Linked DNA regions of Homo sapiens. The protein of the gene in region 2 purifies or fractionates together with the protein of the main gene of each other region. This does not show direct contact. Each region holds a gene or a part of one and is shown on either strand. Other genes may lie near its edges.

The links.
Region 1: the proteins of TRNT1 (region 2) and MVK purify together in Homo sapiens (affinity purification with mass spectrometry; one large-scale study listed by BioGRID and IntAct). This does not show direct contact.

Annotation. Positions count from the first base shown.
Region 1 is NC_000012.12:109,580,275-109,583,857, reverse strand, and holds part of MVK (mevalonate kinase), read right to left. Parts: intron 2,464-3,583; coding exon 2,308-2,463; intron 1-2,307. UniProt on the Homo sapiens protein: Catalyzes the phosphorylation of mevalonate to mevalonate 5-phosphate, a key step in isoprenoid and cholesterol biosynthesis.
Region 2 is NC_000003.12:3,146,692-3,149,566, reverse strand, and holds the end of TRNT1 (CCA tRNA nucleotidyltransferase 1, mitochondrial), read right to left. Parts: intron 2,118-2,875; coding exon 1,864-2,117; intron 1,662-1,863; coding exon 1,413-1,661; 3' UTR 544-1,412; downstream 1-543. UniProt on the Homo sapiens protein: Nucleotidyltransferase that catalyzes the addition and repair of the essential 3'-terminal CCA sequence in tRNAs, which is necessary for the attachment of amino acids to the 3' terminus of tRNA molecules, using CTP and ATP as substrates. tRNA 3'-terminal CCA addition is required both for tRNA processing and repair.

The sequences.
Region 1 (3,583 bases), on a different chromosome or scaffold from region 2:
TCTAATGGAGAAAGTGAAGGTCAGAAAGCGATCAGTATTCAAATACAAACAAATCCATGACACTGCAATATGTGACTTCAAAGCAGGTGTTTCTCAACAGGTGCTGGAGAGGATGTGGAGAAATAGGAACACTTTTACACTGTTGGTGGGACTGTAAACTAGTTCAACCATTGTGGAAGTCAGTGTGGCGATTCCTCAGGGATGTAGAACTAGAAATACCATTTGACCCAGCCATCCCATTACTGGGTATATACCCAAAGGACTATAAATCATGCTGCTATAAAGACACATGCACACGTGTGTTTATTGCAGCACTATTCACAATAGCAAAGACTTGGAACCCACCCAAATGTCCAACAATGATAGACTGGATTAAGAAAATGTGGCACATATACACCATGGAACACTATGCAGCCATAAAAAATGATGAGTTCATGTCCTTTGTAGGGACATGGATGAAATTGGAAATCATCATTCTCAGTAAACTATCGCAAGAACAAAAAACCAAACACCGCATATTCTCACTCATAGGTGGGAATTGAACAATGAGAACACATGGACACAGGAAGGGGAACATCACACTCTGGGGACTGTGGTGGGATGGGGGGAGAGGGGAGGGATAGCATTAGGAGATATACCTAATGCTAAATGATGAGCTAATGGGTGCAGCACACCAGCATGGCACATGTATACATATGTAACTAACCTGCACATTGTGCACATGTACCCTAAAACTTAAAGTATAATAATAATAAAAGAAAAAAAAAACAGACCAAGGATCCAGAGCTACCTAATTACATTTAATAAATGATAATATAGTTAAAAAAACAAAAACAAAAACAAACCAGGTGTTTCTGTAAGAGTACGATGGGCTGAATTGCTGGGGGCTGGGGCGGGGTGGTGGTGCCTGAAGGACAAGGGGAGCCAGCTGGGCAAGGTGTGTGTGTGGGGTGCATTCCAGACACACCACTTGTGCAGCACTGGAACCACACCAGAGCTGGCTGGCCCTTCCCAGGGACCAACAGGTGGCAGCGTGCCTGGGATGAAGTGAGTGATGGAGGCGGGGGAAGGTAACTCAGGCAGCTGACCTAGCCCAGGGCCTGGCCCTCTCAACAAATGTGAGTCTTCCTCCTGCTCTACACAGTTTGTTTTTTAGGGGGCTCAGATTTGAGTCTTCAAAGGAGACTGGGCTCCAGTCCTTTCCGACTCAGAAACACATGATGGGTGGGGTGTGGTGGGGTGGGGTGGGGTGGGAGGTCTACTCTCCCTAAGGGTTCTGAGAAGGAATGACTGGCCTTCAGGGGAAGGTGGGAGAAATGGTTAGAAGCAGCATAAGAACACACACACATGCAAGTGCACACACACAGTCACCCTCCACCTTTTGAAAGACAGGGCCAGTCCTTTGGCCCGTGGAAAATCACTTGAACCTGGAGGCAGAGGTTGCAGTGAGCCAAGATCACACCACTGCACTCCAGCCTGGGTGACAGAGCGAGACTCCATCTCAAAAAACAAACAAACAAACAAACAAACAAACAAACAAAAAAACCAAGCTCAGAAAACAAAACAAAACAAAACAAAAACAAGCCCAGGAAGAGGACAGAGCTCTGCATTTGGGGGCCTCATCCACAACTCCTGGTCCTGGGACAAACTGCGTAACCTCTGCGCACTGGGTGGTTTCTCAAGGAACATTCTCCTAATGATAGAAATGGTCTGTGGTCAAGCCTGTCTGGACAGGCCTCACTGACTCACGTGGTCAATAGGAACGCAGAGAGGTGACACGCCCTCCGTGGAGACGGCCCCGTAGGAGGAGAGATGCCCTAGTCTAATGGGCACACCCCCTAATGTGGATTTCTCAGCAAACTCTTAGTTTCTTTCATAACCATGTGGTAAAACTGGACAATCACCCCTAGGGCACTGTCATTACCATACAGAGGAGAACACTGTCCTAGCCTGAGTCAATGCAGAGGTGGGAGGGTTCATCTAACCTGCTGCCCTCTAGATCTGGACTCCAGCTCTTTCTACCATACCATGGGCGCTTGAAACCAACAGAGCCAAGATGGGGGTGAGCAGAGGTGGTGGAGAGCAGGAGAGAAAAGCTCAGACTCTGAGTTCAAATCCCACTCTGCCAGCACTAGCTGTGTGGCCCTGGGCCAGCCATTTGACCTCTCGGGGCTCAGCTTCCTCATGTTAAAATGGCCACTATGACACCTCTCACCTCACAGGGAGGTGGTGAGGTCTCAGTGAGAGAAGCCACGTCCCTGTCCTGCCGTGCGGGAGGGACACTGGCCAGGTAAGGACCATGGTTACCTGTTGACGCAATCCCCGTCCTTCAGCGGGTTTGGGATCTCCTCGCACACAGTCAGGAGGGCTGCTGCCAGACACACCGAGTAGGCGGCGCTGGAGCCCAAGCCCGCCCCGGGGGGCAGCTCCGACCACACTACGATATCCAGGCTCGGCAGGGCCCTGAAACACACCAGGGTGTGAAACGTGACTCTCCCGCAGGGCAGTGGGGTGCCAGCACTGAACCAGGGGCCAGGCCCAGGCCTGACTCCAAGCATCTGGTCCAGTTTTCTCAACTGGGGGAGAATTCCTGACCCCAAATGTATCCCTATTGAACATCAGGAACTCATGCTGAATCAGACAACTAGAAAACAGGTATCAAGTTCATTTAAATCCCTGGGTCATTCAACCAGAGCCCTTCCCAGAAGCACCTGGCAAGCTGTCAACCCCTTTCTCCCACCTCCTTCCTGTGCCCACATGCTAGGCTTTTCTGTGGGCCTGCTCTGAGCACAGGCTGGCCCCTCTGCCTGCAATAGCCGTGCACCTCCTTATCCCACAGAGAAATCCCTACCCATCTCTCAAGGCCTTATCAAATGTCGCTTCCACTGTGACACTTTCCGTAGCTGCCCACAAAGACCCTCCTGGCTCCCCTTCTAGGACCCCCGCCTGCCCTCCCTCCCTCCACCGCTGCCTCACCACCGCACACTAGGATTGTGTGTTCACCGGGGCCTCTCCCGCCAGACGGTGCTCCCCAACCATGTGTAACACGGGTCTGCTTTTGATCACCAGAAAGGTCCGAATCGCTACATCTTACATGTATTTCCCCCAAGCAAGAACTGTCAAACTTCATGTTTGGTAATTTCCACGAAGTGCTTTTCCCATTTCCCAAATAGAAAAATTGTAATAATGTGCGTCTTCAAATTCCACGTACCCACCCCACCCAGCCTGGAAGATTCTGGAATGCCCCTCACCCACTTAAGGGGACATGCCTCTCTCAAGTTGAAATTCTGCTTCGGACGGCAAGTATCAGGCCGTTTCCGAATGTGTCCTCAGCATAGAGCCTGGCCACTGAGCCAGCATCTGCTGCTCAAGGGAAGGGCTGCCCCCTTGAGGTTTTTTTCCCTTTGGGTTCTGGACAAAAACAAAAACAACAAAAACAACAACAGAGAGGCTGGGGCCGGGTGCAGTCGCTCATGCCTCTAATCCCAGCACTTTCAGAGGCCAAGGCAGTTGGATCACATGAGCCCAGGAGTTTGAGACCAGCCTGGGCAACACAGTGAGACTCCATCTCTACAAAAATTTA
Region 2 (2,875 bases):
CCTGTCAGTAGCATAGTACCTCTCTGTAGGCTGAACTCTAAACCAGTTGCAATGAGTTACCTTGTCCCTCTGAAAAGTTAAAATTTCAGTATGTCCCATACCGTTTACTAGCAAATAAAATTTTCTGATCTGTAAAAACACACATATACTATACTACTACTGAAAATGGTTTTACACATGACAAAACCAGACCTGATAGCTAAATCTGCATACTTTCTATACAGAAATAGTATGTATTATATGACGTTGGGTCTAAATCTGTATTTTGGCAGTACTTAAATATTTTAAGTAAGTATTTCAAAGTATTATTTTATAATGCATCTAATTACTGACCTGTATGCAGTCATTTCTGAGGCTTTCTTGCATCATAGCCCCTGTGACATTTCCTCTTAGAAATATTACACTCTACAAAATTGTTTTATCAAGGTCCAAAATTACTATTTGCTCATAGAGTACAAAGATGTTATGACTGGCTACACAGAAAGGAAATAAATTATGAAATGTCAGTATAGCAGCTGAAATTATAGCAGCTGAAATAAACAGTTTGTATTATACATTTTATTTACCTGATGAAAGCATTTAGGACTCAAATCTTTAGAGAATATATAATAATAGCCATATCCTTTTAATTAATAAAATAACACTTTAAAGACAGGCATATTACCATTGTATATGACACCTAATACACATTGTCAGATACCACATAAACATATTTATCTTCCAATACCAATGTTTGTTTTATTAAAACAATAATTAATTAATAGGCTCAATAGTGACCCTCAAGTTAATCCCATGACTTCCCCAGGCTCTGCATGCATAAAGAAATCATTGTGACAGAAAAATATCAACCACATACTGAAGCATAGCTTGCTAGAACAAATCCTGTACATATGAATGCCAGCAACTGGGGACACATTTAGTATTCACATTTTATGCAAACTTACTTGGTCAATTATTTCTTTTTTAAGCACAGGTTTATTTTGGAATTCAGATAAGAACTGACACATCATAGACAGTCATTGTTAAGGTAACCCTGTTATTTCAATTGCAAACAAACAATAAACGTTTTTTCTTCAAGACAGTTACCACTTTTTAAGATCTTAGTACTACCCTATGCAAAAACAGTTTTTTTTAAAAGCCTGAACAGGTTAAGATAGATAATAGCCAACTATGTTTTCTCAGGTGAAACTATTCCAAAAGAACTGTACATTTCAGTGATATAAATCAGATCCAGAAAGGTGGATCTCTGTTTAGTTCTTGAAATATATAATTCACAAAATAAGACCCTTGTTGTTCTACAGAGGTCCCCTAAACTGTCTTTTATTCTGGTGTAGTCTCTAAAACCTCATTAAGAGGGAGGGGAGAAAATTTAGTCTTACCAGAAATGCTCTGCTTTTTAGTAGCCATCAGTTTTAGGTCTTCTTTATGTAACTCAGAAGTTCATCTTTTTCCATTTGGTAACCACTTTTTTTCCACTGTTCTCGCAACTGTTGTAATAGAGCCCCAATTTCTTTTCCTGAAGAAATGCCCACTTTTCTGATGTCATGGCCACTTACAGGAAATGGAGGAATGGACCACTGCTGCATTTCCTTTAGGAGACAGTGCTCTCCTTGGTACTTCAGTAGTTCACATACACGAGTAGTTGCATCAGGTTCCCTAGACTACGTGTCAAAATCAAACATTTAGTTTCGTCACACATGAAAACATACACTTACAATCTTATCCTAAAATTTAAATACTCAACATAAATTTTTTCATTTAAAATAAGTAAAATTCACAGATTTGTAGATCTTAGTTTTAATAAATTAATTCTAAATTCGTGACGATACTTCATATTTCTGACCAAGCCTAGTATATACTTACATCTATAATGAAGTCTTGATAGGGTTTCAATGGGTCTGAACTATCTGTTGCTTTAATTAAATCTTTCCTATTTTTAACTATAAATAAGCCAAGGTTTTTCTCCTCTTTTGCGATCTTCAACCTCAAATCCAATTTTGTGACATCATCTTGTACTTTGAATAATGAGGCCAAAAGAGTCACTGGCTTTGGTGAAAAACCATCAACATTTTTACTGACTTTGTCAAATTCTTCTAAACTTGCATTAGCAGGTAAACCTGTAGGGACAAAAGCATTTTTCACCTGTTTTTAGTGGGGATAAAAAACCACTCATATCCTAAACCTTGCCACCATTTTAGTATCCAGAAATGCTTTGTCACTAGGATACATTATATAGGTTCAGTCTGATGTTCCAACTTAAAGGCGAACCACTAATATATTGTTATTCTCTCCCCTGTCACCTTCAAAACCTCTAAAATGTTCTTGTTTCCATTAAAGCTACATCAAGAGTTCCAGGGGTAGTGGTGACAGTGGTGTCAGACTCACAAGGCATACTCTTTCTAATCACAAATTCCTGACTTTACACTGATACAAGATCCACCCCCCATTCAGTAATGTTACTGAAATTTGAAATATGCCCAAGCTTACCGAAGTGTGATAAACCATATAATCCCACTATTCTCTGTGAAAATGAATTACAACGTTTACTGAACAATTTCTGTGTACAAGTCACTCTTCTAAAAGAGCTTTACATGTATTAACTCACTGAATCCTTTTAGCTTTCCTATTAGATAGAGGCTACATTACTTTTAAACCGCTTTTTTGGGTTAGAAACTAACCCAAGTTGCAAAGACTAGATAAGGGGCTGAGCTTCCTTCAAACCTAGGTCTGACTAGAGACTACTCTACAAGCACCACAAGCTGTCTTTGAGCTCTTCCCTACTCACGACAAAACTTACCCCATAACCCAAACTTTGTCTTATTTTAAAATACTCCATTTCTCCAAGAATTCTTCAACCAAATGAGTCAAACATTTT